7 separate regions of the Homo sapiens genome follow, and all the other regions are linked to region 1. The links come from fine-mapping of genetic effects on gene expression. A gene starts in region 1. Each other region holds a variant in brackets. All regions are shown on one strand. Distances are from middle to middle. Region 1 holds the start of ANKLE2 (ankyrin repeat and LEM domain containing 2). Region 2 overlaps ANKLE2 (ankyrin repeat and LEM domain containing 2). Region 3 overlaps POLE (DNA polymerase epsilon, catalytic subunit). Region 4 overlaps POLE (DNA polymerase epsilon, catalytic subunit). Region 5 overlaps ANKLE2 (ankyrin repeat and LEM domain containing 2). Region 6 has its middle 2.8 kb from the start of P2RX2. Region 7 overlaps PGAM5 (PGAM family member 5, mitochondrial serine/threonine protein phosphatase).

Region 1 (4,387 bases):
AATCCTCCCTCCTCAAGGCGTGTGCCACCACGTTCAGCTAATTTTTTAAATTTTTAGCACAGACAGCGTCTCGCCATATTGCTCAGGCTGGTCTCCACCTCCTGGGCTCAAGCGATCCTCCTGTCTCGACCTCCCAAAGTGCTGGGATTACAGGTGTGAGCCACCGTGCCCAGCCTTCTTGGGCCTCTTCTAAGGGAAGTATATAAGGCTCTGTCCCATGACCTATCACCTCCCACAAGCCCCACATCCTAATACCATCACCTTGGGGGTTAGGGTTTCTTTTTTTTTTTGAGACAGAGTCTCGCTCTGTCACCCAGGCTGGAGTGCAGTGGCGCGATCTTGGCTCACTGCAAGCTCCGCCTCCCGGGTTCACACCATTCTCTTGCCTCAGCCTCCCGAGTAGCTGGGACTACAGGTGCCTTCCAGCATGCCCGGCTAATTTTTTGTATTTTTTAGTAGAGACTGGGTTTCACCGTGTTAGCCAGGATGGTCTCGATCTCCTGACCTCGTGATCTGCCCGCCTCGGCCTCCCAAAGTGCTGGGATTACAGGCGTGAGCCACCACGCCCGGCCAAGGGGGGTTAGGGTTTCAACATACGAACGCTGGGGACAGACACTCAGAATACAGCAGAGGTGTACGTTTAACTTTGAAAGAAACTGCCTCACTATTTTCCAAGGTGGTTAACTCAGTGTTTGCTCTTGCCAGCAAAATTTGATATTGCCAATTTTTAAATTTTAGCCATTCTGGTGGATTTCAAGCAGCATCTCATCGTGGTTTGAATTTCCATTTCATCCATCTTCAAAATTACTGACCCTTTCTTCTGTAGTGCCCAACCAACCATTAGTACCATCCAATGATATTTTTTAAGAGATGGGGTCTTGCTATGTTGGTCAGGCTGGCGTGCAGTGGCTATTCACAGGCGAGATCACGCTCATGGCAGCCTCGAACTCCCGGACTGAAACTACCATCACCCCTCACGCTCCAGAGTTGCTGAGACTACAGACCTGAGCCACCTCGCTCAGATCAATTATGTTTTTAACCAAGGATATCAATTATATTTTTCAGGTCTTTCATTTTCATTTAATAATATCTAAATTAGGCGGGGCGCGGTGGCTCACGCCTGTAATCCCAGCACTTTGGGAGGCCGAGGCTGGTGGATCACTTGACATCAAGAATTCGAGACCAGTCTGGCCAACATGAGGAAACCCCGTCTCTACTAAACATGCAAAAATTAGCCAGGCGTGGTGGTGGGCACCTGTAATCCCAGCTACTTGGGAGGCTGAGGCAGGAGAATCGCTTGAGCCCAGGAGGCGGAGGCTGCAGTGAGCCGAGATCGCGCCACTGCACTTCAGCCTGGGCGACAGAGCAAGACACCGCATCAAAAAATAAATAAAACATCTAAATTACATACAGTAAAATCCTCCTTCCCTTTTTCGAGACAGGGTCTCACTATTAGGTTGGTGCAAAAGTAATTGCGGCTTTTACCATGACTTTCAAAATATTTGCCCGGGCTGGTCTCGAGCTCCCGGGCCGTGGGGATCCTCCCGCCTCGCCTCCCAAGGCGCTGGGACTCCGGACGCAGCCGCCGCGCCCGGCAAAATCCGCGCTTTCAACTGCGCGTCAGGGCCCCTTGGTGAAGGAGCGGGAAGCTCCGCCGGTCTCCATAGCGCCGGCGGCCTGTTCTGCGGGTTCGCGGGGGAGTGAGAGGCGCTTCCTCACTCCTGCTCCAGGACGGGACGACGGCCGCAAACAGTACTCGGGCTCGGAGCACACGAACCCGGAGGCCGCTTCGTTCTCGGAGACGCACAGCGCCCCACGGACGCCAGGCCGGGGCCGGGAGGCGCGAAGAAGCGCCGCCCCGCGCCCGGCCCCGCCCTGGTGGCCTCCCCGGGCCCCAGCCCCGGCCCCCGCCAGCACATTGCGCTCCCCGCGCCTCGCCGGTCCCAGGACCCCGCGTCGGGCTGCCCGCGCCCCGCCTGCCGCGCCCGCCCGTCCGCTCGCCCGTTCCCGCCCGCTTGGGTCCCAGGGCCGGGGCCGCGCCCTCGCCGGGCCTCCGCGAGCGGGGCCGCCGTCCGTGTCCCCCGCGCCGCCCCGGCCGCCTCGAGCGCGGCGCCGTCAGGCAGGGCGCGGGCAGCCCGGCGCGGGGTCCTGGGACGGGCGCGGCGCGGGGCGCGGGCTTCTCGGCGGCTGCGGCCCGGGCGGCGGCGATGCTGTGGCCGCGGCTGGCGGCGGCCGAGTGGGCGGCGCTGGCCTGGGAGCTGCTGGGCGCCTCGGTGCTGCTGATCGCTGTGCGGTGGCTGGTGCGGCGGCTGGGCCCGCGGCCGGGAGGTCTGGGCCGCAGCGGGACCCCAGTTCCTCCGCCAAGCGCGGCCGCCGCCCCCGCCTCAGGTAAGGCCCAGGCGGTCGCTGGGTCCCCGCACCCTGGCCCCTTCCCCGCCCCGACGCCCTCCTCGGGCCTGGGGTCCCGGCCGCGCCCCTGGAGCCGGCAGCAGTTGGGCGAGGCGGCCGGGGAAACCAGGGCCGGTCGGGAAAGGCCATTCCGGCCGCGGAAAGGGCAGTTGCGGGGACTTGGCTTCCCGGGCCGGGGGCGGAGGGGCCACGCCGGGTTCGGGGGTGAGAGCTTTCCCGGGCCCTGGAGCAGCCTCCGGGGAAGGCGGCGGGGGCCCGGCGAGGCGTTAGCGGAGACTCTTGCTGCGGTCTCTCGAGACCTGGGGAGGGATGGCCCAAAGGAGGGCGGCGCGGGGAGGAAACCCCTGGGTCCCGGATGTGTTTGGAACGTGAAGCCATTGCGGTTACTGGTCATGGAACATAAGGCAGAGACGGAAAAGGCAAATGTAACTCAGGGGTTTGGGGCCAGAGGAAGAGGGAGAAGGTGGCCATTTATTGCTTTGCGGTAGACTGTCGGGTCTGGGTGATGTGGAGATCAGAGGTGGGTTTTGGTCGTTTTAAGTTTGAGGTAACTGATACAGTGAACTGTGTATTTCAGCTCCATCCCCTTTTCCTGGCATACAACTCTTGAAATCCCGGGAACCTCCAAAGTGATGTCTTTTGTAGGCTGAGTGGACTGGTGGCCGGCAGCCCCTAGGGAGCTTCTGGATGGGGCTGGTCGCAGGAAAGACCAAGGCAGGGTTAGAGGTTCTGGGGACTTTCAGCCCCACCCCCAACCTCTGGGGAGGAGAGAGGGGTGAAGGTTGCGTTGATCACCAGTGGCTGATGAATCACGCCTGTGAAATGAAGTTCCTGTAAAAACCCAAAAGGGCTGGGTTCAGGGAGCTTCCAGATAGTACGTGGGGGTTCCTGGAGGCGGTGCCCAGAGAGGCCCTGAATTTCCAAGCGCTTCCCCCCGGTTTTACGTCACGCATCTCTTCACCTGTATTCTTTGTAATCCTTTATACTCTGCTGGTAAGTGTAAGTAAAACATGTCTGTGAGTTCGGGAGCCACTCTAGCAAATTACCGCAACCTGAGGAGGTCACCGGGTTACGCCCCGTCGGTCCCAAGCGCAGGTCAAACAACCTGGGCACTGGAAGTGGGGGGCAGTCTTGCGGGGCTGAGCCGTTAACCTGTGGGGGTCTGCTGGTATCTCCAGGAAGACGCTGTCAGAATAGATGACTGAATTAGGATGACAGACGACACCCAGCCTGTGTCCACTGCAGAACTGACGACCTGCGTGATTTGTGGGGAGAAAATCCCCACATACCTGGTGTCCGAAGCATGTTGCAAGACTAGTGGGAGAAACTGAGTTTGTTTTTACTCTAAATTGTCAGACTGTTAGTCACTGCGGAGAGGTGCTTTCTGATGATTGAGTGGGGATTCCTGTCCAATTGTGTGAGTTTGTGTCTCGGCCCTACCACTTTTTTTTTTTTTTTTTTTTGAAATGTAGTCTCGCCCTGTGGCCCAGGCTGGAGTGCAGTGGCGCGATCTCGGCTCACTGCAAGCTCCGCCTCCCGGGTTCAAGCGATTCTCCTGCATCAGCCTCCCGAGTAGCTGGGATTACAGGCGCCTGCCACCACGCCCGGCTAATTTTTGTATTTTTAATAGAGACGGGGTTTCACCATGTTGGCCAGGATGGTCTCGAATTCCTGACCTCAGGTGATCCACCTGCCTCAGCTTCCCAAAATGCTGGGATTACAGGTGTGAGCCATCGCACCGGGCCCTACCACTTATTGCTGTGGGCTTAACCTGTTTTCAGCCTGCTCTTTTAGGAATGGGGATGATAGTGATACCTGGTTAGGCTTTTTTGGGAGTTGGGTAAGTGCAGCACTTGGTATGTGTTAAGCACCTCTGAGTGCTGTTACTGTCACCAGCGGCATCATCCAGGCAGAGCTGCGGACAAGGTGGCGGCGGGTGAGGGTGGTGTTTTGAGAATGGCTGAAATAAAAAAATACT
Region 2 (4,387 bases), 23 kb after region 1:
TCCGGGACACTCCCTCCCCACTCGCCTCCGGGACGTTCCCTCCCCACTCGCCTCTGGGAGAGAGGCCTTTGCTTTCTGGGCCGCCCTCTTCTAGTCAGCAGCTTCTAGTTGTTGGCCCCTGTGCCTTGCGGTTTGTAGGTGCCAGGCATGTGAAAACGGCTGGTTTCAGGGATGGCTTTTCCCTGCCATCTTCCTCTGTTTTCAGTGAATTTTGGAAGATGACACTTCTAGAAGCGCCTCTTCTTTGCCATCTTAGCTCGAAGTCTGGAGCTTCTGCTTGCTGGTGAGATTGAAGCAGACGCTGAGGTCCTTTCACCCACCTGCCTGCTTTCCTCTCTCTCGGATTCCATTCCTATCCAAAACTCTGTCTCTATTTAAAGCAGGGTCCGCAAATGACTGCTTTTAAAAATAAAATTTTATCAGCATAAAGCTGTCACCACCATTTGCACACTGTCCGGGTTCTTTCCCAGCACACAGTGACTTGTGGCCTACTGAGCCTAATTATTTACTGTCTGACATTTTATAGAAGTTTACCAAGCGTGATCTAAGGTGTGAAGAGCCTCTGCTTGTCCCCTGATCTGTTCCCGTCCTAGGTATAATTTATTAATTACACTTCTTCAGTGTGTGTAGCTGTGCACAGGAAATGAATCCTGCATGCTGTTAGCGGCGAGAGTTCCTCCTCAGGGCCGTTGAGGCGTCGCTGCAGAGGCCCAGCCGGAACCTTCAGAGGCCCTGGGAACACACAGCTATGTTGCCAGAACATCCCTGAAGAGCCGAGAGTCTGCTCCGGATTTTCAAACCACACTGTCAGAAATGCTTTGCAACGCTGACATTAAGCATTGCTTTGTGATGGTATTTAGGAAGCAATTCTGTCTGAGAGATCCTTGCCTATGTGTGACAGTAAAACACTGTCGCCTCTAAGATCTGCCCCAGCAGCTGTTTGCTGAGGAGAAGGCAGCTCTGTGAGATCCATGTTCCTGTGGGCTGAGCTACACGGCACCTCCAGAGCTCCTACACCTCCTTCCTGGTCCTTCTGAGGCTCATGCGAAGCCCAGGCATGGTCAGCATCTGTGGTCACGCTGGGGCCTCGGTCACGTTGTAGCTTCACATGCCACAGAGCCTGCTACAGGGCTGGCTGCATCCTGCATCCCACCCTTCCCGTCACTCAGAGAGAGACCCACGCTTGTGTGAAGATGAGGAAGGACTCTAAAGTGTTATGAGAGACAAATAGGATCAGAAAGCCAGGCACAAAACTGTCCAGAGACCGTGAGTCCCATCTGTAGACAGAAATTGTTAAAAGGGACTCAAATCAATATGCCAAAAAAGTAAACATTAGTATTTTATGAGTAAAGTGTAGGTAAATTGTACCGTATACCTACCATGCACCCTATACTGTACATACTGTATGTCTTCTTTTCCTGTGCCACTGAAAGAGGGAAAAAACTGCCAATTAACCTGTAAAATGCCAACATACATAGGATGCATCCAAATATAAGATAGTAATATGTAAGACAGAGTATTTGAATTGCCCTAATTTTCAGTATGGAAAATTAGTACTCTTGAATGGAAATTCTTCAGTACCTTCAGTACTCTTGAATGGAAATTGTCGTACTTTTTCTTAACTTTCATTTTAGGTTCAGGGGTAAGTGTGCAGGTTTGTTATATAGGTAACCTGCATGTCACCGGGGTTTGGGGTACGGATTATTTCACCTGGTGATCAGTATAGTACCCAGGAGGTAGTTTTTCCATCCTCTCCCTCCTCCTCACTCCCTCCACCCTCAACCAGGCCCTGCTGACTTCTTGTTCCTTCTTTGTGTCCATGTGTGCTCAGCGTTTGGCTCCCACTCATAAGTGAGAGCCATGTTTGGTTTTCTTGCCTGTGTCAGTTCCCTTAGGGTCATGGCCTCCAGCTCCAGCCATGTTACTTCAGAGGACATGATCTTGTTCTTAATATCCTGTGGTATATATGTACCACATTTTCTTTATCCAGTTGACCGTTGATGGGCATACAGCACTTTTACAATTAGAAAAAAATTAAAAGCATAAAAACTATGATAAGCAGCCGGGTGCGGTGGCTCATGCCTGTAATCCCAGCACTGTGGGAGGCCGAGGCAGGCGGATCACAAGGTCAGGAGATCGAGACCATCCTGGCTAACACGGTGAAACCCCGTCTCTACTAAAAATACAAAAAATTAGCCAGGTGTGGTGGTGGGCACCTGTAGTCCCAGCTACTTGGGAGGCCGAGGCAGGAGAATGGTGTGAACCCGGGAGGTGGAGCTTGCAGTGAGCCGAGATCACACCACCGCACTCCAGCCTGGGTGACAGAGCGAGACTCTGTTTCCAAAAAAAAAAAAAACTATGAAACTATGATAAGCCTTTAACATAAGAAATTCCCAGGCATTCCAGAGTAGCATGATTGACTGTAAAGGAAGCCTCTTGACTCTGGGTCTCCAGGAGCTGGGTTTGAAAGCAGGACGAGGTGGTGTGTGGCCTCCGTGCAACCTACAGAACCTCACGACACTATCCTATATGGCTTGACTGC[G/A]CTGTCCCGTGGGACCTGAAGACACTACTCTTCCTTGTGCTTTTTCCATACTCACATCCAAGTGCCGTGTGATTCCAGATCTGTTGAGAGATGCGTATTCAGTGATGCAAATTGTAAAGTACAAGAGAAGCAGGACTGAGAAGCGAGGAGGCCGGGCACAGCGGCCCACACCTGTGATAAACTACAAGAGAAGCAGGATTGAGAAGCAGGATTGAGAAGCGAGGAGGCCGGGCACAGCAGCCCACACCTGTGATAAACTACAAGAGAAGCAGGACTGAGAAGCGAGGAGGCTGGGCACAGCGGCCCACACCTGTAATCCCAGAACTTTTGGAGGTGGAGGTGGAATGATCACTTGCATCCAGCAGTTCGAGACCAGCCTGGGCAACAGAGCAAGACCCCATCTCTACAAAAAGTAAAAATTAGCCGGGTGTGGTGGCGCATGCCTGTGGTCCCAGCTACTCAAGAGGCTGAGGTGGGAGGATCCCTTGAGCCTGGGAGTTCGAGGCTGCAGTGAGCCATGATTGCACCACAGCACTCCAGCCTGGGTGACAGAATGAGACTCTGTCTGAAACTAAGAGGAGAAAAAAAGGAGAGAAGGAATAAAATATTACTTTTTTTTGTTTTTTTGAGACAGATTCTCACTCTGTCGCTCAGGCTGGAGTGCAGTGGCGTGATCTCGGCTCACTGCAACCTCCACCTCCCAGGTTCAAGTGATTCTCCTGCCTCAGCCTCATGAGTAGCTGGGGTTACAGGCACCCACCACCACACCCGGCTAATTTTTGTATTTTTAGTAGAGATGGGGTTTCATCATGTTGGCCAGGCTGGTCTTGAACTTCTGACCTCAGGTGATCCACACACCTCAGCCTTCCAAAGTGGTAGGATTACAGGCGTGAGCCACCGCACCCGGCTGGAATGAAATATAACATTTTTAAAATGTATTAAGCTCCTACTGTGTGCTACTCTTATTCACTCAGGTCCGACCCCTTAGTCCTTTAACTACCTGGGGCTTCCTTTTCTTTTCTTTCTTTTCTTGTAGCAGTGGAGGAAAATGAGGCTGGTTAAGTGAAGTGAGCTCTGAGACCTTGTGTGACTTTGTTTCCATTGTATCCATTTGCATTAAGTGCAGTGAGCTCTGGCGGAAACCACCCTCTGCCCCGTCTGTTGGATCCATTTGCAGAGGCCTTGGCAAGGGCTCGCGTGATCCCCGTCCTGCTCACCCAGGCCTGACCTGCGGAGGGGGCGGAAGCCTGCAGCCAGTGCCTGTCTCCTCCCTCAGGCCACTACTACGTGCCCCTCCTGAGAGCGGAAGAGACTTCTTCTCCAGTCATCGGGGAGCTGTGGTCCCCAGACCAGACGGCTGAGGCCTCTCACGTCAGCCGCTATGGAGGCAGCCCCAGAGACCCGGTACTGACCCTGAGAGCCTTCGCAGGGCCCCTGAGTCCAGCCAAGGTGAGCTGCTGTAGAAGCTTCTGGAAGTGGTGCCTGGCTGTCCCTATACTGTGCTGCTGGGTGTTCCAGCCTGTTGCCTTGTGCGTGGTCTCAGGGACCATGTCCTGTGGAGCCCCAAGGTTGTCCTCATCTCAAACCATCCACCAGTGATTGGTGATGAGAACGTTTGTCAGAGAAATGTGTGTTCTTGGCTCTGTGGCTTGCTTACCAGGGCCGATGTGCTGGGAGCCACTGTCTCAACAAAGCAGACATTCCCTGGGCCAGCCCCGTCCTGTGCGCGTGTCGCCCTGTTCTTGCTGTGTTGATGGCCCGTCCTAGGCACCTTGCTGGTGTAGCGAGGCTGCCCGTTGTGACTAGGAAAGCTCCATCTGCACGTCCACCTCCTGACCACGTTTC
Region 3 (4,387 bases), 88 kb after region 1:
AGCTTTGTTCTCAGGGTATGACCGTCTTTTCTGCCAGAGACGGGCGGAGGGGCGGGGCAGGAATAAGGGCCAACATGAGGCTGCTGCTTCTGAACTTTGGGAGAGGAATTTGGAATAGCTTGAAGAAGAGAAAGAGCAGACCTCTGACTGCTGTGACTTGGGTTCAGGCTCATCTGATCCAAAGGTGGTTTGAACACGTCCAGGAGACCAAACCCACCATCATGGTCACCTACAACGGGGACTTTTTTGACTGGTGAGTCTGTGTCTTCTCTATGAGTAACTGGGCAGCATTTGAGAGGGAGGGCGTTGCGTGGTGCAGGGGCGCTTCCCATGTCGACTTAGGAGGTGGCTCCTGGGTTCACTCTGCACCTCCCGTGTCTGGGTTCCTCCCTGGGTCTGAGGGAGGAATGGAGAAAGGGGCATTAGAGCCTGACCTGCCCACTTGCTTGTCTGTCCTCTTTCCAACCCAGGCCATTTGTGGAGGCCCGGGCAGCAGTCCACGGTCTGAGCATGCAGCAGGAGATAGGCTTCCAGAAGGACAGCCAGGGGGAGTACAAGGCGCCCCAGTGCATCCACATGGACTGCCTCAGGTAGGGGCCACAGAGCAGCATGGCTCCTCACTGCTGTCCGTGAGCGAGATCTGAAGGCCTCTTGCAGACTGTGCTGTCACCACATCTCATGGGAGGAGGGTGGCCTCCGAGAGGCCGTTTCAGGTCACCCAAGAGTATGGCAGCTGCAACCCTGCCAGGGCCCGGGATGTGCTGTCTTTGACTGTTGACTGACAATTCATCAGTGACCAGGCACATTGAGCATCAGCCTCTGGGGTGGGGAAGCCGCTGGAAAGACGCACTCAGCTGACAGGTCCCAGACCTAGGACCTCATGGAGCTGCTCTGCCCAGGCAAGGTTGGGATGTGGCAGCCCGGCTGCCTCACAGGACAAGCCTCACGGGACAACCACAGATTCCATATGAGCTAGGGTGGGAGGCAGCTCAGAGCTTCGGAGAGTCACGGCGTTCGGGGGCTCTGACATGACTGGTTGGGAAGACAGGTGGATGTGGAAATGCCAACAGAAGGAGGCTGGAAGGGAAGGAAGGGAAGGGAGGGAGGAAAGGAGGGAAGGGAAGGAAGGGAAGGGAGGGAGGGAAGGAAGGGAAGGGAGGGAGGGAAGGAAGGGAATGGAGGGGCCTCCACGGCCTCTGTATTCTGCACAGTGCCACTGGGGTGCTTGCAGCCTGAATGCGTTTCTGTTTAGCTCTGATGCTCAGCACTTGGCTTGGAGAGGGAGGCCAGGAGGCTGGGGCCGGTTTAGCGTGTGACGGTGTGACAGTCCTGATCCAAGGCAGGGAGTGAGGGTTGTGAGGATTCAGGATCTGTCATGTGGGGCAGGGGGAGGCCCAGGGATGCTGGTTCTTAGGGAGGGGTTGGCACCTGGGGTTTTTGTGCCATCCGTGGAGACAGGGAATGGGTAGAGAAGGGGCTTGAGGCAGGAGGTGACCCTGCTACCGATATGCTAGCCTGGAAGCCCCACCCATATGGGGGCCCTGAAGACCACCATGAGGCTTGGTTTGGGCTCGCACTGTAGATTGGGACTCACTGGGTTGCGGGTGGGTCTTGGTGAAAGCTGGGGTAGTGGATGAACTGAAGGCAAGAGGTAAAGTGAGAGAAGAAGGCCACAGGGTGGAGGCTGCGGGGGGTGGAGACCGGACATGACCCCTGGACAGCTGCTCCAGGGAATGCGTCTGTAGGGAGGAGGTAGAGACAGGTTCCGGGTAGAGTGTGGGGGGCCTTCTTTTCTTAATTTTTATTTTTTATTTATTTTTTAAATTTTTATTCTTCTTG[G/C]CATCTGATCACATCTTGCCTTCTATTAAAGGAGGGTGGGCTTGAGTGTTTCCGTGCTGAAGGGACAGTGTGAGGAGAGAAGATCAGTGTGGTTGATAGAACTAGGCCCCAGGGGTGCAGACCTGAGGTCTGGGGAGAGGCCCAAGGAGGTGGGGCGCCCGTCGGAGAGGCCACAAACTCTGCTGAGGATGGGAGGAAGGCGAGGGCCGGAAGGACCAGTCCTGGTGCTTCCTTGTGTTGTGGATAGGTCTGTGAGATTAACTAGATCCTGATGAAGGGTTTTCACAAGGTGTCTACACCATGTGGGGCCTTGGTGTGAGGCTCCTGGGTGCCTGTTAGGAACTTGCATCTGTCTGTGTGGTGCCCAGTTTTGCCAGTTCTCAGGGGTTCCCGGGCTGCATGTTAGAATCATCCTGGCTTCTGTTCTCATTCTCCTTCCAGGTGGGTGAAGAGGGACAGTTACCTTCCTGTGGGCAGTCATAATCTCAAGGCGGCCGCCAAGGCCAAGCTAGGCTATGATCCCGTGGAGCTAGACCCGGAGGACATGTGCCGGATGGCCACGGAGCAGCCCCAGGCACGTAAGCCACATCCCGGCTGCCCCTGCTGCCGTGTGCACGCATCCAGATGGCCACGGAGCAGCCCCAGGCATGTGAGCCACATCCCGGCTCCCCCTGCTGCCGTGTGCACGCATGTATGCCAGCCCGCTCCACCCAGCAGGCTGTGTCTCCGGGACACACGTGTTTTGTCCTGTGCCGGTCTCCTTACTGTGTGTGCGGCAGGCTGGTCAGGCCAGGCTTTGCTTTCTGTGCTTCACACTTGACCCTGGGCTCTTGATTTTTGATGGCCCTGCTCTCTGGCGTTCTCTCCTCAGACTCTGGCCACGTATTCTGTGTCAGATGCTGTCGCCACTTACTACCTGTACATGAAGTACGTCCACCCATTCATCTTTGCTCTGTGCACCATTATTCCCATGGAGCCCGACGAGGTGAGCATTATCTGTCCTGTCGGCACCCTGGCCTCCTCAGCCCTTGCCCCATTCCAAATGCACTGGAGCTGAATGGAGGTGGATGTCCCAGGAGTGCTGGCACCAGAGGCGGCAGTAGAATTCTGGTGTGTGACGTCAGGGATGTCCTTTGGGAATTCTCTGGCCCTGGTGTGAGGAAGAAACCACAGGAGGCAGAATTTGCAGCCATTTACCACGAGGTTTTCTCTCCTTTCACACTGAAGTTCAGCTTAGGTTCCTGGACTTTGCCTGCAAGTCAGGGCCTTTGGTGTTGCTTTTGGCTGGAAGCCTTGGTTTCTCTTGCAGGTGCTGCGGAAGGGCTCTGGCACTCTGTGTGAGGCCTTGCTGATGGTGCAGGCCTTCCACGCCAACATCATCTTCCCCAACAAGCAAGAGCAGGAGTTCAATAAGCTGACGGACGACGGACACGTGCTGGACTCTGAGACCTACGTCGGGGGCCACGTGGAGGCCCTCGAGTCTGGGGTTTTCCGCAGCGATATCCCTTGCCGGTTTAGGATGGTGTGCTTCTTCCCTGGGATTCAGATTCTTCCCACTCTTGTGCTGTGGTAGGACCCAGAAGCTGCAGGGGCTGAAATAAAGCCCCTTCTCCCCATCCTGTCCCACGGCCCCTCACCGGGTGTGGCTTCTCTGGCCCAGCACCCCCCGGGGGCTTCTTTAGGGCAGTGCACTGCAGATTGTGCACATGAGTCCTTCCGGAGCTTTCTCGGGCACAACCTGCCACGTGCAGCCACAGCGTCAAACCTGAGGCAGGCTAGTGTGGGTGTGTTTCCCCTCTGACCCCGTCGTCTCACTGTTGTGCTAGAATCCTGCCGCCTTTGACTTCCTGCTGCAGCGGGTTGAGAAGACCTTGCGCCACGCCCTTGAGGAAGAGGAGAAAGTGCCTGTGGAGCAAGTCACCAACTTTGAAGAGGTAACCATCAGGGAGGCAGGAAGAGCCAGTCTGTGTTTGGCGCCTTCTTCACAGACCACGTCTTTCAGCAGCACGTTTATTGTGCACCTGCTGCGTGTGGTGCTGTGGACGGATGACACAGGGTCTCTGGTGGGACAGGGCAGTCATGGTTGTGACGTGTGATGCTGTCACAAGGTCGGAGGGCTTCATGAGAGGTGGGGTGTGAGCTGCTCCTGAAATGCAGTAACATGGAAGGTGGGTCCTGGTGGGATGTATCCCGTGTCCTGTTTTAAAGCATTAGGACTTTATTTTATAGGCACTGGGGAGCCATTGGAGGTTTTAAATTTTATTTACTTTTTGTTGTTGAGACTTAAAAATGACAGTAAATTCCTACAAATGACAGGATTAGTGACTGTAAAATCTGTTTACATAATGGTTAGAAAGCACACTTACAAAGTGTGTTATGTGACTGGAGAGGGAGACACCAGTTCTTCTCTGATCCCTGTTCCTCAGGACATGGCACATCTCAGGTCTTTTTTTTTTTTTTTTTTTTTTTTCCCTTTTTGAGATGGAGTCTCGCTGTTGTTGGCCTGGGCTGGAGTGCAATGGCATGAGTTTGGCTCACTGCAACCTCT
Region 4 (4,387 bases), 110 kb after region 1:
CTCTACTCTTAAAAGTTTACAAGGAAAGCTAGACAGAGCAGAATATGTCTGAGTTGGATTATGTTTTTTGTCTGGCGTCTTCACTCTTGACTTCCTCCTTTCTGATAAGTAATAGGTGAGCACCTAATAACCTTTTAGGGCAAAACTGAAAACATGAAGTGCCTGGGGCCCTTTAGCTGTTCTATTGGATGGACTAAGGCCAGGGGTGTTGGCTCAGCCACCTACTAGCTCTGTGATCTAGAGGAGTCAGTGAAGCTCCCTGCCTTGGTGTCCTCTGTTGTGCAATGGGCACCTTTCATCATAGAGTTTCTGAGAGGATTAAATAAGACACAGTGGTTAGCCCTGTGCTCAGCATGAAGTGAGCCCCACTCTTGGCTGCTGCCACCTGCTGTTCTCTGTGCCCGTTTCCTGCACATGCAGATTCTGGATTGGGACTACTACATTGAGCGGCTGGGAAGCGCCATCCAGAAGATCATCACCATCCCTGCGGCCCTGCAGCAGGTAAGGGCGGGGTCAGTGGCACGGGCTGTGGGGCTAAAAACTGTGCAGTTAGACAAGGGTCTCTCTCTGATGGGTGTTGGCCTCACACAGGTAAAGAACCCAGTGCCACGTGTCAAACACCCCGACTGGCTGCACAAAAAACTGCTGGAGAAGAATGATGTCTACAAGCAGAAGAAGATCAGTGAGCTCTTCACCCTGGAGGGCAGGAGACAGGTGACGGTGGGGCCCCAAGGCTGGGCTGGGCGGGATCCTTGTGACACACAGGACTCCAGGCTTCTTGCGCTGCTGTGTGTGCTGTAGTGAAGCTTCTGTTCAAGCATCGAAAATGGACTTTTTCTGAAAATGTGCCCATTGGCACTTTACTCTCTAACTCTGAGTGTCACTCTTTTGTTAATAGGACACCATTGTGAGGCTGAGGTGAGGGCAAGGAACTGTCTCCTTATGTGAAAATATTAGGGTGCACTACTTAGACTCAGTGCCTTGGGCAAATCACTGTCTCTTGAAGCCCCAGTTTTCTGAATGTGAAATGAATATCTTCCCTATGGAAACACTTAGAAACACAGGACACAGTGTAATAAAAGGTACAGTGAAAGTCAGAAGAGCAAAAGGAAAATTCTTAAATGCTGAAAATTAAAAGTAAGCTATAAATCAGAGCAGTATACAAACTCACATGACAAGAACAAGGTTCTTTGACCAGGTGCGGTGGCTCACACCTGTAATCCCAGCACTTTGGGAGGCCTAGGTGGGCAGACCACAAGGTCAGGAGATGGAGACAATCCTGGCTAACACAGTGAAACCCCATCTCTACTAAAAATACAAAAAATTAGCCAGGCGTAGTGGTGGGCGCCTGTAGTCCTAGCTACTCGGGAGGCTGAGGCAGGAGAACAGCGTGAACCCGGGAGGCGGAGCTTGCAGTGAGCCGAGATCACGCCACTGCACTCCCCTGGGCGACAGAGCGAGACTCCGTCTCAAAAAAAAAAAAAGAAAAAGGTTCTGAGATGGATTGGATTTTAAAATTTAACTGTCTTATTTGTAAGAGTTATATATGTATTCTTTCCCCTGCCCC[C/G]CAAGACGGAGTCTTGCTCTATTGCCCAGGCAGGAGTGCAGTGGCACAATGCAGCTTCTGCCTCCTGGGTTTGGCTCACTGCAGCTTCTGCCTCCTGGGTTTAAGCAGTTCTCCTGCCTCAGCCTCTAGTGTAGCTGGGATTATAGGCACACACCACCATGCCTAGCTAATTTTTATTTTTTTAATTTTTTTCTGCCTCAGCCTCTAGTGTAGCTGGGATTATAGGCACGCACCACCATGCCTAGCTAATTTTTATTTTTTTAATTTTTTTTTTAAATTTTTAGTAGAGACGGGGTTTCACCATGTTGGCCAGGCTGGTCTCAAACTCCTGACCTCAGGTGAATGCACCCGCCTTGGCCTCGCAAAGTGCTGGAAATACAGCACTGCGCCCAGTGGCTTATGGGCCAGTATAACAATTTCAAGAGTTATATTGAAAAGATAGGACGCAGGAAAAGCAAAAGGAGTAAAAAATACGTATACCAGGTAAATGTTAACCAAAAGAAAGCTGATGTGGCTGTATTAATACCAGACAAAATACTCTTTAGGCCAAAAGTATTAGGAAACATAAGGACTATTGTTACATAATACTGAAAGTCACAATTCTCTGGAAATATATACTAATTGTAACAATGTAGCCTCACATTAAATAATGTAAACATTTACCTAATTATAAGAAGAATTTACCTCCAATCAGTTTGGGAGATGTTAACATCCCTCCCTCAATTGATAGTTGGAGCAGACCAAAAATCAGCAAAAATATGTTTGGAATGACACAATCAACTAACTAGATTTAGTCACTAGCTATAATACATTTAGTGAACAAATGTAGTCTTGCACTAAAATTAGAGAATACCTATCCTTTTCAAGAATACATAAAATAATGACCATATATATACCACAGAGTAAGCTGCAACCAATTCTAGATAACTTAAATACAGACCATGTTTGGAAATTTAAGAAAAAAAAAACACATTTATAACTTGTGGATCAAAAAAGTCATAGAACTTAGACAATACTTGGAACTGAATGTAAATACAAATGCTATTAAAATTTGTAGTATGCAGTTAAACAGGACTTGTATACGCATTTATATATCTAAATGCATGTATTAGTAAAGAAAAACAAATAGAAAATTAAGTTTCCAACTGAAAAAGTTAGAGAACAACAGATCCATCAGAGGAAGTAGACAGAAGTTATAAAGAGTTATAAAGGTAACCAGGCATGGTGGTGCACACCTATAGTCCTAGCTACTCGGAAGGCTGAGAGGCAGGAGGATTGCTTGAGCCCAGGAATTTGAGGTTGTAGTGGGCTATGATGGCACCTGTGAATAGGCACTTCACCCCAGCCTGGGCAACACAGGGAGAACCCAACTCAAGAAAGAAAAGAAAGAGGTTACAAAATTGAGCCAGAATGAGTGAAACAAACAATACAACCAAAATGTTGTTCTTTGAAAAGACTTAGGAAAATAGTCACATCTTTTTCTTTTCTTTTGAGACAGGGTCTCATTGTGTCACCCAGGCTGGAGTACAGTGGCGCAGTCATGGCTCACTGCAGCCTTGACCTCCCAGGCTCAATTGATCCACCTGCCTCAGCCTCCTGCATAGCTGGGACTATAGGCGCACACCACCACATCCAGCTAATTTTTGTAATTTTTTGTAGAGACAAGGTTTTGTCATGTTGTCCTGGCTGGTCACATCTTTTTCAGGACAGAGTTTTTTATTTTAATGAAAACAGACATCATTATAGATATAGTAAAGCCTAAAAAAATGGAAGGATTCCCATTTTCTGCTAAACAGTTGGAAAACATAGATGGAACGGACAGTATCCTCAAGTTATGCACTGACCTAAGAAGTAATAAAAACCTGAATAGAACTTTAACCATTACAGAAATTGACACTTAAAAAGAAACAGGCCAGGCGCAGTGGCTCACACCTGTAATCCCAGCTCTCAGGGAGGCAGAGGCGGGAGGATAGCTTGAGCCCAGGAGTTCGAGACCTGCCTGGGCAATATAGCGAGACCCCGTTCTCCACAAAAAGAAAAAAAAAAGAGACGAAAAAAAATAAGTGTAAAAGAAACATCAAACCCAAATGATTTTTAAGAGAAAAAGGAAAAAAAAAACCCTTAGCTCATTTGGTAACCTTGGCAATCCTTGTTACTTTGGTAACATAATTGAAAACAGGAAAGGAAAGTTACGGGCCATGAACAATAGATGAAAAAATATCAACATACATGAACAATAACAATATGACCAACTAGGACTTATGCTGGGAATAGCAAGCACTGTTTAATTTTAGAATTTGCCAGGTTAGTTTTTCTTGGGAGAAATCCACTAATTCATCATTAAAGGAGAAGGCTCGTAAGATCATCTCCAATAGATGCAGAAACAACATGCGGTAAAACTTTAACATCTGCTCATGTTAAAGTTTGAACAATCAAAATCAGAATAGATGAGATGTTTCTTAACCTGATAAAGTGTTCTTGAAACCTAACAGCAGACCTCATACTTAACCACAAAACACTGGAAGCATTGAAGTAAGGAGTAAGAAATGGATGCCTGTTAACCACTGCTTCTGTTCAAAACAGTTTGGAGATCCTAGCCAGCATAATTAAACCAGAAAAAGAATTAAGGATTGAAAAGGGAGACATCAACTTATTATTTACAGGCGATGTAATTTGTTAACAGAAAATGTAAGGAAACCTAGATTTTGTGTTAACTTATATGTATTTCAGCAACAATTAGATACCAAGGTAAGATATAAAAGTCTATTGCTTTCATTTATACTAGAAACAAAATATTTTTTGAAAGATACCATTTACAAT
Region 5 (4,387 bases), 37 kb after region 1:
TGTTCATCTCCGGGCCTGTGCCCGTCTGCTAACAGTTCTTTCTTGCTTTCCGCAGTTGGCCCAGTCCCGCGGTGAAAGGAAGGTTCAAGTCTCAGCTGCCAGATCTCAGTGGCCCTCACAGCTACAGTCCGGGGAGAAACAGCGTGGCTGGAAGCAACCCCGCAAAGCCAGGCCTGGGCAGTCCTGGGCGCTACAGCCCCGTGCACGGGAGCCAGCTCCGCAGGATGGCGCGCCTGGCTGAGCTTGCCGCCCTGTAGGCTTGGCGCTGGGCTCTCGGTTTGTTCTTCATTTTTAAAGAAGGAAGGGTCATATGTTTATTGCTAAACTGTCAAAAAGGAATATATTCTGATTAAATTATTACTCCTCACTTTGAGGGTGTGAGAATTTTAGAAGATTTAAATGTTCTATATAACACTTAGATTTCTGATATTTTGGAAGAAGTTAGAAGTTAATGAAAGCAAACTCAGTTACCAATTTTCTGGAAAATATCCATGTGGTAATGGTAGACTTTTTAGGTGGCAATTTCTAGGTCTGAAATATAGCAGAGGAAAGGGCGCTGAGGCAGTTGCAGGCAGGCAGCCCTGTACTTACCCTGTACTCACCTCATCCGACAGACGCTGTGGATGAGGAGGGGCTTGGCGGAGGCGTGAGCACCGATGTCCCTTTGATAACCTGCACTCACCAAGATGAACTATTTGCCGCCCTGTCTTTTCCTGGGTTGGGGGGTGGCATCTGATGGTGGCAGAGTGCCTGTTGGTTCGCCCGTGGGTCTCATGGTTCAGACAGAGGGAGGTGGACGGCAGGGATCAGGGAGCCAGGAGCGCGCCTCAGACTTGCAGCAACCATTGTGATTTGGGTTGTTCGGAATATTTAAATTACTGATCAGAAGATGAAAGTAGCTTTTCTCTTGGGAAGTCTTGCAGCCCGTGGGAGTGATACCAGGAGCAACACAGAGCTCAGCAGCGGCGCCAAGGTGTTCCCTGTTTCCTCAGCACGTGAGCCTTCACCGCCTGCTTCATTCAGGAGCCAGTGCAGCAGTAATACAGTCTATACATTGTTCTGTTTTCAAATTTATCCTGAGGCTTTGTTGAGCATAAATGATTATACGATAAAGGTATCCGTTATTTTGGAACTCATTTCAGTTGGGATCTCCTGTATGCAGAGTGTTGCATTTAGAGGTTTGAGTCCCATCTTGGTTTCTTGCCGTGCTGACTGTAGCCTTCACCTTGACTTGAATGAAGGTCTGTGGTTGGAATGTGTGAGGAGCCGCTGAGGTGTTCAGGAGGTGCTGCCTGGAGGTCGGTTTCTTCCTGGGTGTTACGGGCAACTGCTCACACAGTTGTTTCTCTGTGAACATTTCCAGTGTTTAATCCAAAATGAAAACCCACCAATGCTTTTGCTAACTTCAGTGCCTTTTATAAATCATTTTTAAATTTCCTGAACTTGCTTTTTGAGGATATACAGGGATATTAAGTAGACGCAGGATTGTTTTTGTTTGTAAAAATTCTGAATTGAAACTTTGTTTTAAAAAAAGGCTTCTTTCTTTCATATGACAAGAGATAGGTCAGGAATATTGGAATCAAGATTTAAATGTTAAAATTCGATTTTGTTACACAGGGTGTGTTCATTTGTTTTGTAGCAGACAAGATCTAGATCCCAGACAGAAACAACACATGCTATTCTAAAAAGCCGCATTTTAAAAGGCACCTTGGTTCTCAAAAGAAATCAGAATATGGATATTCGTAGTGATGATCTGTTTTCTCTAAAATCTTACCATATTGTCTGTAT[A/G]TGGTTGTAAATTCAAATGGAAAGTAAAACGTTTTGGCCCTGATTTTGTATGTGGACCACTGCTCCTGATTTCCCAGGTCTTAGGCCACCTTTGACTGTTTCTCCGTTTGTTTGTGGGCAGCGATTCCAGTCCCAACGGAGGCATTCTCGTGTGTCCCGGGGGGTTATGTCCTTCACAAAACACTTAATGAAATGAATTACTTCAAAACCGCGTGGTAATAATTGCAAGCTTTCGGAAGGATCCCTCACTTGTGCCCAGGCGCACGGCACTGTTTTGGTTGGACGGCCATCAACCTGGGTGCCCTCAGATTCGCTCGCTGTTTTTAAGCCCCTTTCTTGACTCAGTTGTGAAAGATTTTCTGGCATCCGTTAAAAGAGCACAGATTTTACCGTTGCTCTTGGCAGTGGGAAACCTTGGTGACATTAACAGTTGCTGTGGTGGCTTTGGTTGGAAAGTGCCCTTCTCCAGCGTGGTGGCAGCTGTGAGGGAGGCGCCCGGTGAGTCTGCTGCTCGTTTCTGGGTAAAAGCAGCCATGGTGCTGCGTACCAGCCGTGGGAGTGCCAGCGGCGCCATGGCAGGGACCACAGCCAGGTCCTCCAGAGCCGTGTGGATGTTTCCAGAAGCCTGCAGAGTTTTCCCAGGGAAGGGCTGATGGAAACCCTCATTGGGGCCCGGCTGTGCGTGCGGGGTGCAGGCGTGTTTGTCGTGGTTGGAAACCCTGTGACTGCTCCAGCTGCAGATTCCCGCCCGTGCTCCCTCCTTAGAAAAGGCTTTGGGATAAACGTCGGCATGGCGACCCCTGGCAGCTGGCCGCCATCTGGTGGCATTGCCTTTCCCACCAGTCTCATTGAGGCTTCTGGTGTGCAGTTTTCACTTTGGCCAGACAGAGGCTATCGTTACTAACATGTGAGAAGTCTTCAGTCTGTCCCAAACCAGGGGACGGTTTCCATCGTTGACGTCGCTGGGCCCCTGTAACTCACCCAGTCCAGACACCCTCAGCCTTCCCCTCATGCGGCTCCCTCCACGCAGGCGTTCACAACATGCACACTGAAGATCCCTGGGGGCTGCCCTGGTATGGGTCAGCTCCCCACTCCCCAGTCTCCTGCCTGCCCCTCCCTGCCTTCTCCCCCGCCATACCTGCCCTGAGTCCAGCATTCAGAAATTAGACCCCCACCAGCTACCAGCCAAACCGGGAGCCATCCTCACTTTGCTAATCTACGTCCGTCCCACATGCAGAAGACTGGAAAAGGCCATTTAAGGAAGAACCACTTTGAACAGCAGGTATTTTAGAAGGGAAGTCTACCAGGCACAGTGGCTCATGTGCTTTGGGATGCCGAGGTGGGCGGATCACTTGAGGCCAGGAGCTCGAGACCAGTCTAGCCAGCATAGTGAAACCCATCTCTACCACAAATGCAAAAATGAGCCAGGTGCAGTGACGCACACCTGTAGAACGAGCCACTTGGGAGGCTGAGACATGAGAATCGCTTGAGCCTGGAAAGCGGAGGTTGTAGTGAGCCGAGACTGTGGCACCGCACTCCAACCCAGGTGACAGAGCCAGAGTATGTCTCAAAAAAAAAGTTTGCTGGGAATTTACTCTAGAAAAAGAAACTAAAAATTATTTAAAGTTTCATATTCAAGAAACTTAGGTAATCATCTATGGGCATACTACCCCGAGCACACCCAGTCTCTCTGATCTTGGCAGATAAGCAGGGCCTGGTTAGGACTTGGAGTGGAGGCTGCCTGGGAATACCAAGGGCTGTAGACTTGGTTATCATTGCTGTACGCTCTTAAAGAATTAGTCACACACTGAGTTTGTGGCTTAACTTTTCAAAATCCTTGACTTCAGATTTGACTTAAGCAGCATAATCAGGTTTTCTTTCCTTTTGGGTTTTGTTTGTTTTTTTGCAGAAGGATTTGAAGACTCTGGGTCACTGGTTTCTTGTGATCCATTGAAAACTGCTCGTGGTCTCCCATCCACTTCCCCCTTTAGACCAGGTAGTCTGTCCAGATCTTCACATGAGTGCGACTCACGTCTATGACGTGAGCGATGGGAGTGGCCGTGGGCTGCGCAGGGCATTGGGGCCAGCTGATGTGTGGTCATTCCACTTTGTGATGAGCTTTGCTGCCCAGCAAACCTGCGCCTGCTCTGAGCATTGCCTCAGTGCCAGGCGTGCTGGCGCTGCTCCCACCTCCAAGCTTTCCCACTTTACAGAGGAGCCGGGGCCCTAAGCAGAACAAAGGCTTAGCCCTGCAGCGCTGCCCCATCCCTGGAGGCCCAGCGTTGGGGCTGTGGCGTGGGCGCCCTGTGTAGCTGACTTAGAGCATCCCGGACTGCTTCCTCGCCAGCCTTGCTCCCGTCTGAGGTCAAACGTGAGCGTGCCTGGTATTTGTTTTTGAAGTTGGCGCGTCCCTGGCTTATCAAACTATTTCTAGACAGTGGTGTATGGTTGCTGTGGCTGTTGTCTCCACAACCATTGGTCAGCCTTGCCGTCCTGGTCAGGGATTTGGAAAGGGCCCAGGCCACTGGCGGAAGTCCTCTGAGCAGGCAGCCGGTGCGATGCGGGCAGAGGCGTCAGCCACGGGGAGACAGGACACTGT
Region 6 (4,387 bases), 150 kb after region 1:
ATAGTTTATTATGATAAAATCAGCATAGCATGTAATTAACTATTTTAAAGTAAACAATTCAGTGACATTCACAACATTGTGCAACCACCACCGCCTCTGTTTCGTCCCCAAACACTTTCCCCACCCCAAAATAAAACTCCCATCCATTAAGCAGTCACGACCCGTTCCACACTCCTCCCATGCCCTGGCAACCACTGGTCGCTTTTCTGTCTCAGTGAATGGACTTGCCTGTTCTGGATATTTCATATCAAGGAAATGCAATATTTGTTTCTGGGTTAATGCCTTTTCTGTCTGGCTTCATTCACTGAGCATGTTTTCAAGGTTCATCCACATTGTAGCATGTGTCAGGGCATCACCCCTTCTTATGGCCAGGAGAAATGTCTAGGCTATCCAAAGAAGGAATTTAGATTGCTTTCAAACTAACTCTGTGAATAGTGCTGTTATAAACACTGGTGCATAAGTATTTGTTTGAACTGTTAAATTAACTCAATTAACAGGCTGCCTCTGTGCCTTGAGTTTCTAGGTAACAACAAACTGCAACCTAATGTACCACAGAAACAAGCTAAAAGCTTAACCTATGAGTATATTTTGGAACAAATAGCTGGGTCTCAGCCAGTCACAGGCTGCTAACTGATCTGATCATGCCATATAAGGCAAACATTTCAAGCAGTAACAAAATCAAGCTAATTGTGATTTTTTTTTTTTTGTATCTCACTTCTGTGTTCTATCTATAAAAACTTCCTGCCCACATTACAGAGTGGAGCTCTCGAACCTCCCCCATTGGTTCTGAGTGCTGCCCAATTCATGAGTTGTGTTTTGCTCAATTAAACTCTGTTGGCTGGGCACAGTGGCTCATACCTGTAATCCCAGCACTTTGGGAGGCCAACATGGGTGGATCACTTGAGATCAGGGGTTCGAGACCAGCCTGGCCAACATGGCGAAACCTCGTCTCCACTAAAAACACAAAAGTTAGCCAGGTGTTGTGGCATCTGTAATCTCAGCTACTCGGGAGGCTGAGGCAGGAGAATCACTGGAATCTGGGAGGTGGAGGTTGCAGTGAACTGAGATTGCACCACTGCACTCCAGCCTGCATGACAGAGGGAGACTCTGTCACACACACACACACACACACACACACACACACACACACACACAAACTCTTAAATTTAATTTGTCCAAAGTTTTTGTTTTAACAGTTTGGTGTCAGAAGTGGGATCTGAAGTAGACCTCCAGCCACCCCCTAGGAGCACTGAATGCTCAGTAGGGCCTGTGTGCCTGCTGATCTCTCAAAGCATCTAGAGTCATAGGTGAGTTCTCTCTGCTGGATTTGTGCTCTATGACCATGTGTTTTGAGCCCTCTACTTTGAGCAATTCTTTTTTTTTTTGAGATGGAGTCTCACTCTGTTGCCCAGGCTGGAGTGCGGTGGCGTGATCTCAGCTCACTGCAACCTCCGCCTCCCAGATTCAAGCAATTATCCTGTCTCAGCCTCCCAAGTAGCTGGGATTACAGGCACATGCCACCGCGCCCGGCTAATTTTTTTGTATTTTAGTGGAGACGGGGTTTCACTGTGTTGCCTGGGCTGGTCTCAAACTCCTGAGCTCAGGCAATCCACCTGCCTTGGCCTCCCAAAGTGCTGGGATTACAGGCATGAGCCACGGCGCCCGGCCTTGAGCAATTCTTAGACCGGAATGGGTCCAGGATTGAATTGGATCCAAAACTTAACTCTATTGTATCCAGTTAGAGGCCTTGAGTAGGTCCCTTTTGGCTTGGGTTTGTCTGAATCCAAGGAGTCTGCGTGCCGCCTTCTGGGACGTTTGCTAATTATGTGTGTAAGAACTATGGACCCAGAACTTGTGCACATTTTAGAAAAATCGGCTAACCCCAAACTCAAAAAGACCCCTCCAGATTCTTGGAACCGTACACCTTTCGGAGACCTTAAGGTGAAGCTAACCAGGGAAGTTTTCCCCAGAAGCAGACGGGATCCTAAATGTGGACAGCTTTTCCAAGATCATGGGTTGAGACTTCTCTGCCATCATGACAGCCTTAGCCTCCCCCTGGCCCCTTATTTCCTGCTGTCTGAATCTTTTCCTTTTCATTACAGGAAAATCCACAGCACCATAATGTGTGGATGGCGTCAGCTAAGGCTTACGCTCTAGGAAAAACCCAGAGTGGTAG[T/C]TGGGTTTGTGGGTTAATGTCAAAAGCCAGGAAACTACATCAATCCCTGTCATTTTTCACGATGACGGTCACTCTGGAACTCCCAGGGGAGAGTGGAGAGCGTCCCCATGTGTCCCAGGGGAGACTGGAGAGTGTCCCCATGTGTCCCAGGGAAGAGTGGAGAGAGTCCTCGTGTGTCCCAGGGAAGACTAGAGAGCGTCCCCGTGTGTCCCGGGGGAGAGTGGACAGCCCATATGTCCCAGGGGAGAGTATCCCCGTGTGTCCCAGGGAAGAGTGGAGAGCGTCCCCGTGTGTCCCGGGAGAGAATGGACAGTGTCCCCGTGTGTCCCAGGGGAGAGTGGACAGTGTCCCCCTGTGTCCCGGGGGAGAGTGGGGAGCGTCCCCATGTGTCCCAGGGAAGAGTGTTCCCGTCCCTGTGTCCCAGGGGAGAGTGGAGAGCATTCCCGTGTCCCAGGGGAGAGTGGGGAGTGTCCCCGTCCCTGTGTCCCTAGGAAGAGTGGACAAACACACTCTCCTTTATGTTCCAGACACCGCTGCTATCACTTTCATATACCCGCTGAAACGGTGTTCTGACCTTTCCAATTAATAATCCAAACACTGCTCATATGTAAAGCGTGCCTGAACGATGCCTTCAGAAGGTAGATGAGGCTCCAGGCATCACATACTCAAGACCTGGGAGTTCTCTCTGTGGGTGGGAGACACGGCATGTGTGATGTCACTGGATTGAGTCCAGTGAGGTCCCTTTCCATTAACTGTGGTTACACACCCTCACAGCACACTGTAAAGGGAAAAGCTTCATACCGGAGCTTTTCCGCTGGACCTGCTTCGGGAGCTGTACTGACATGTGGGTGAAAACGTGTCACTGACTTCTGCTCAGATGCCACCAGGTGGCGCCCTTTTCCAGCCCCCGAGAGCTTCTGCTGGGTCTGTGGAGAATCCGCTGTTGGGCCTCCTCACTGGTTTGAATCTTGCAATTTGGTCCGGCTCAGTCCTGCCTTCCAAGTAGCTTCCCCTGACAGTTCCCACCCAGGATACCTCCCATAATCGGAGGCCAAAGCAGTCAACAACCAAAATTAGCACCAGCCTTGAAATAAATGAAGTTAGTTTTCACTGAAGAAAGTTTCCATTAGAATTCTTGGTGGTGGTGAGGTGCTGGTTGTGTGGAATTCTAACCTAATTAGTAAATTGGGGAACATCTTGGGCTTTGTGGCCAACCCGACCTCCCAGGATTTTTTTTCCCCCCAGAACTCCATGAGTTCACTCCCAGGGATTTAGACGGGTGGAAGTCACGCTCTGAAAGGTGGATTACTAGAAATCACACAGCTTTAGGTCTGTTAAAGGATATCTGCAAAACAACAAACAAACAAACAAAAACCCAGTTAACAACTTTCTTCCTAAAAATTATTTTTTATTGTAATAAAACATTTAACATGAGACCCACCCTTTTAACAACATTTTAATTGAACAATACAGTATTGTTAACTACAGGTGTGATGTTGTATAGCAGACCTGGAACATACTCATTTTGCATAACTGAAACTGAAACTTTATCCCTGTTCAGGAGCAATTCCCTTTTACCCTCTCTGCAGCCTCTGGCAACCACCATTCTACTCTCCACTTCTATGAGTTTGACAACATAATTTTTTTTCATAATTTTTTTTGAGATAGGATCTCACTCTGTTGCCCAGGCTGGAGTGCAGTGGTGCAATCCTAGCTCACTGCAGCCTTGACCTCCGGGCTCAAGTGACCCTCCCACCTCAGCCTCCTGAGTAGTTGGGACCACAGGCACGTGCCACCACGCTAGGCTACTTTTTCCATTTTCTGTAGAGACAGGGTCTCACTGGGTTACCCATCAGCCTGGTCTCGAACTCCTGGGCTCAACTGATCTTGCCTTGGCCTCCAAAAGTTCTGGAATTATAGGCACGAGCCACTGTGCTCAAGTGACAACATAATTCTTTTTTTTTTTTTGAGATAGTATTTGACTCTGTCACCCAGGCTGGAGTGTGGTGGTACGATCTTGGCTCACTGCAACCTCCACCTCCTGGGTTCAAGCGATACTCTTGCCTCAGCCTCCTGAGTAGCTGAGACTCCAGGTGTAAGACACCATGCCTGGCTAATTTTTTATTTATTTTTTGGTAGAGATGGGGTCTCCCTATGTTACCCACGCTGGTCTCGAACTCCTGGGCTCAAGCGATCCTCCCACCTTGCTCT
Region 7 (4,387 bases), 42 kb after region 1:
ACAGAGCGAGACTCCGTCTCCAAAAAAAAAAAAACAAAAAAAAAACCACACATTTAATCCCTAAGCATAAAAGATTAACTGGAGGCAAACTAAGATTGAGCTGTCAATCTGAAGTATTTTACTCAATAAGGGTAACCCCCTATTGGGCTGTCACTAGCGTGTCACCTCAGCCGAGACCAGCATGAAGGTCAAAGGCGAAGCCACCTCTGTAGACCCACCTCACCTGCCCCTCCCCCATCCAGTCACCTGTGCAGCTGGCTAGTCCCTCGGCCCCTAAAGACCTAATCAAGTTGGTGAGTTCAGACCCAACATCATCAGGAAATCTGTAAATTTGGAGAAACTTGTTTTCAAAGCAAAAACCCAGATGAAGAAAAAAAAATTTTTTAGGCCAGGCACGATGGCTCACACCTTTAATCCCAGCACTTTGGGAGGCCAAGGTGGGTGAATCACCTGAGGTTGGGAGTTCGAGACCAGCCTGAACAATTCTATATTGGTTTCTCCATGAAACCCTGTCTTTACTAAAAATACAAAAAATTAGCCAGGTATGGTGGTGGGCGACTGTAATCCCAGCTACTCGGGAGCTGAGGCAGGAGAATCACTTGAACCCAGGAGGCAGAGGTTGCGGTGAGCCGAGATCGCACCACTGCACTCCAGCCTGGGCAACAAGAGTGAAACTCCGTTTCAAAAGAAAAAATTGCTTTAAGTCTCCCTCGCTTGCCCAGGCTGGAGTGCAGTGACACAATCACAGCTCACTGCAGCCTCCAGCTCCCGGGCCCAAGTGATCCACCCACCTCAGCCTCCCAAGTAGCTGGGACTCTAGATGCCCACGACACACCCAGCTAAGTTCTGTATTTTTAGTAGAGACAGGGTCTCGCTATGTTGCCTTGTCCAGGCTGGTCTTGAACTCCTGAGCTCAAGTGATCCTCCCACCCTGGCCTCCTGAGTAGCTGGGAATACAGGTGTGAGCCACTGTGCCCAGCCAGAAAATCTTTAATTGACAAATATTTAAGGGACAAGAGGGTTTTAAGAAATTAAAAGGATGTATGAAGTGAAGTGAGTTGTGAACAGAACCTGGGTGCCCTCCTCATCCACGTGCCTCAGTCGCCCTCGTGCCTGACCGGCTTTGCCAATGGAGCCTGGACCCTCAGCACGGGTCAGCTGTGGGTGCGAACATGGTGGTCTGGGTCAGGCCTCTTTCAAGTCCCCACAACAGGCCTGACTTGTGCGTGAGACGCTTTCACCTTAAACCCCACGCCATCCTGGGGGTTCATGGTCAGGTATAAAACCCTGCAGAGAAGTCAGGCTGTCTGATCCCAACTCTCCCCTTCTCAGCCTGGTCACAAGTCAGTTCCCAGATGCAGCATTGCAGGTTTCTACTTTCCGCCGGTCTCCTTGGGAACAAAACGTTAAGTGTGTGCGGCCTGTGCAGGGAGGACAGAGGGAAGGAGAGGCCGGAGCCCTCAGGATCGAGTGATCTTGTCGGGAGGCATGAACCCCGTGTCCCCGAGGGTCCTGAGCGCAACTCGGCCGTTGGGTCGGATCACCAGGTGGGTGATGCTGCCATTATTGAGGGAGAGCCGGAGCCAGCCTTCAGGAGGAAACTGCAGTGCTCTGGGGAGAGAGAGAGAGAGAGAAAGAGCACGTTAGAGCCAGGGGGCTCTGTCCTTAAAACGGGCTGAGCTAGGCCGGGCA[T/C]GGTGGCTCACACCTGTAATCCCAGCACTTTGGGAGGCCAGGCGGGTGGATCACAAGGTCAGGAGATCGAGACCATCCCAGCTAACACGGTGAAACCCCATCTCTACTAAAAATACAAAAAATTAGCTGGGCGTGATAGCAGGCACCTGTAGTCCCAGCTACTTGGGAGGCTGAGGCAGAAGAATGGCGTGAACCCGGGAGGCGGAGCTTGCAGTGAGCTGAGATCGCGCCACTGCACTCCAGCCTGGGTGACAGAGCGAGATTCTGTCTAAAAAAAAAAAAACGGGCTGGGCTAGAGCCAGGGGACTCTGTCCTTAAAAGAGGCTGGGCCAGGCTGTGCCAGGGGGCTCTGTTCTACAAACAGAGGCTGAGCCCCTCAGAAGTCTCAGAGCAGCCTCAGGGCCGGGGTACACATCAGCCGAGCCGCTCCTGTCTTCAGTCGGGGCTTCTCGGGGAAGATCTGGCTGGGATCGACGTGAATCGATGACTGGGATCGACATGAATGGAGCCATCACACTTGGGGACCTGCCCTCTTTAGGACAGGGGCCCAACCCCAACTCAAGATTTGCACAGATCAGAACAACGCTGACTTCTTACGAGGAAACACAGTTTAATTTCTGCTTTTCCCATATAAAAGCAGGGAGCAGCCAGTTAGTGCAACAGGTCCCTTTCTGGGAAAGCAAAGAACGGAGATGGGATCTACCCGCCGTGGCATCTTCATGCACTTCTTAGGCACAATTCGCATTTGCGGAAAAGCTCGGAGTTGCCTTCATCGCCTCTGAGCCACCCACCGCCCTGTCTCAGTGGGCCGCATGGCCACCCTCACGCTGCTTCCCGAGCCTCCTCAGGGCTGCCTGGCGGCACCGGCCGGAACAGCACAGCCATATTCTCGTGTCCAGGTGCACGTGCCTGGCCCTCACCACTGTGTGGACTCAGGTCGGCTCCACTCTCCCGCCCCGGTTATTTCTGTGCATTTTTAGCATTTGTGTCACCTCGGGGTGACTGTGTCATGGACACACAAGGTGGTGGTGGCAGCATAGAAGCCACCCATATGGCTCATTCACAAGCACAGACAGGAGGCAACGAACGACTCACAGCAAACAGGTACTCACTTAGCCTGAGGCCACACCACCCGGAGGCTCCAACCCCCAGAAAAGCTCTATCTGGTCTGGAGCCAAGCTTGAGAATCTCGGCCCGTACATCCTCGACTTTCTGGGAGCTGCTGCTCTTGACCATGGTGCTCCCAGCAGCCCCAGCCCTGGTGACAGGCCCAGGTGACAGACGGGCAGAGACCAGGGCCCAGCCTCACACGGCATCACTGACCAGTGCCGTCCTGTCCTCCCACCACAGGACTCGTCACACTCAAGAGGGCCCCCTCAGCTGCGGAGCCCACACACACATTTCCTAATGGATCCAGAGAAGAGGCAAATTTGTTTCAAATTTGCATTTAGTGAGATTTGGCCAACCCTTCTGACTGTTTCAGGCATGTAACCGTAGAGCTGGCCCTGCCCCCCAAGGGGCCCTCTAACGTGGCTGCAGCCCTGGAGCTCCTTAAAGAAGTGGCTGATTGCAGGGTGGTGGCAGGGAAAACGCAACCTGAACCCGGATCATTCTGTGGTGCTGAGAGTGGGGCACCAGAGCAGGTTGAGGGACAAGGGCCCCCCGAGGGAGCAGCCCGAGCAGCAACGTGACTCAGCTGTGGCCTCGACCCAGAGGGGAGCGGACACCCCGAGCCGTCACGCTGGCACACGGGTGGGAGCGCCCACAGATCAGCAAGTGAAAGAGGTCAGGACCCCAGAAGCACAAAATCCCCAGCGGACAACAGCGGCGGGATGCTGCCAGTGGGATCCAGCCGGAGGCAGAAGGTGGTTGGTCGAGTTTGAGGGGAAACAGGACGTTCAATTACAAAGGGAAAACAACCAGGGCAGTGCGGACGCCCAGCATGCACCGTACCCAGGACCCCCCACCCAGCACGCACCCCACCCAGGACACCCCCACCCAGCACGCACCCCACCCAGGACCCCCCACCCAGCACGCACCCCACCCAGGACACCCCCACCCAGCACGCACCCCACCCAGGACACCCCCACCCAGCACGCACCCCACCCAGGACACCCCCACCCAGCACGCACCCCACCCAGGACCCCCCACCCAGCACACACCCCACCCAGGACACCCCCACCCAGCACGCACCCCACTCAGGACCCCCCACCCAGCACGCACCCCACCCAGGACACCACAGGGGTCCCTCCCTGTCTGCACCACCCTTGCCCAAAACAGCCTTATGAGAAGCTCCAAGTAACACGCCACCTACCGCGTAACTGACTAGGACTCGCGGGAAGTGGACGCCCGGGGGCTGGTGAGGCCTGACTAGGGTGGCATCGGCAGTGGAGGAGGGTCTCGCTCGGCTTCTTCCTCATGCTTTTCTCTAAGTCTGAAATTATTTTAGACCACGCCCAGCCCAGCAGCTGCCTACCTGCACACGATGTAGCGGATGACGTTGGCGTGACAGATGAAGATCTCGTAACTGTCCTCCTCCTGCCTGGCATCTGCGCGGTGGATGTAGTTCCGGAAGGCGGCCTCGATCCGGGCTCCGTCTTCGTAATACTGCTGGGGGCAGAGTGAGGAGCCGTCAGTGCGGAAGTGCTCGGGCAGGGCGGGTGTCAGGAGGACAGACCCCATCGCCGCCCGGGGA

What was found.
Region 2: its variant is fine-mapped to the expression of ANKLE2 in whole blood (TOPMed, PIP above 0.99).
Region 3: its variant is fine-mapped to the expression of ANKLE2 in whole blood (TOPMed, PIP above 0.99).
Region 4: its variant is fine-mapped to the expression of ANKLE2 in whole blood (TOPMed, PIP above 0.99).
Region 5: its variant is fine-mapped to the expression of ANKLE2 in whole blood (TOPMed, PIP 0.99).
Region 6: its variant is fine-mapped to the expression of ANKLE2 in whole blood (TOPMed, PIP 0.93).
Region 7: its variant is fine-mapped to the expression of ANKLE2 in whole blood (INTERVAL, PIP above 0.99).

What each region holds. Positions count from the first base shown.
Region 1 is chr12:132,759,619-132,764,005 of GRCh38, reverse strand. It overlaps ANKLE2 (ankyrin repeat and LEM domain containing 2), which reads left to right and starts at 2,174. Exons shown (of 13, transcript NM_015114.3): 1 at 2,174-2,388. The coding sequence starts at 2,208. RefSeq lists enhancers at 1,506-1,605, 1,960-2,828 and silencers at 1,756-2,045, 2,136-2,725.
Region 2 is chr12:132,736,497-132,740,883 of GRCh38, reverse strand. ANKLE2 (ankyrin repeat and LEM domain containing 2) reads left to right here. Exons shown (of 13, transcript NM_015114.3): 8 at 3,819-3,991. Among named protein-coding and RNA genes, the nearest start is that of ANKLE2, 23 kb to the left of the region's middle. The variant G/A (reference allele first, on the strand shown) is at 2,543.
Region 3 is chr12:132,671,601-132,675,987 of GRCh38, reverse strand. It overlaps POLE (DNA polymerase epsilon, catalytic subunit), which reads left to right. Exons shown (of 49, transcript NM_006231.4): 11 at 168-253; 12 at 471-590; 13 at 2,281-2,413; 14 at 2,711-2,824; 15 at 3,149-3,361; 16 at 3,666-3,773. Among named protein-coding and RNA genes, the nearest start is that of POLE, 14 kb to the left of the region's middle. The variant G/C (reference allele first, on the strand shown) is at 1,840.
Region 4 is chr12:132,653,463-132,657,849 of GRCh38, reverse strand. POLE (DNA polymerase epsilon, catalytic subunit) reads left to right here. Exons shown (of 49, transcript NM_006231.4): 28 at 421-501; 29 at 592-714. Among named protein-coding and RNA genes, the nearest start is that of POLE, 32 kb to the left of the region's middle. The variant C/G (reference allele first, on the strand shown) is at 1,568.
Region 5 is chr12:132,723,112-132,727,498 of GRCh38, reverse strand. ANKLE2 (ankyrin repeat and LEM domain containing 2) reads left to right here. Exons shown (of 13, transcript NM_015114.3): 13 at 56-1,996. The coding sequence ends at 257. It also overlaps the pseudogene RNA5SP379. Among named protein-coding and RNA genes, the nearest start is that of PGAM5, 14 kb to the right of the region's middle. The variant A/G (reference allele first, on the strand shown) is at 1,789.
Region 6 is chr12:132,613,755-132,618,141 of GRCh38, reverse strand. No RefSeq gene overlaps it. Among named protein-coding and RNA genes, the nearest start is that of P2RX2, 2.8 kb to the left of the region's middle. The variant T/C (reference allele first, on the strand shown) is at 2,177.
Region 7 is chr12:132,717,902-132,722,288 of GRCh38, reverse strand. PGAM5 (PGAM family member 5, mitochondrial serine/threonine protein phosphatase) reads right to left here. Exons shown (of 6, transcript NM_001170543.2): 5 at 4,169-4,302; 6 at 1-1,611. The coding sequence ends at 1,461. Among named protein-coding and RNA genes, the nearest start is that of PGAM5, 9.3 kb to the right of the region's middle. The variant T/C (reference allele first, on the strand shown) is at 1,693.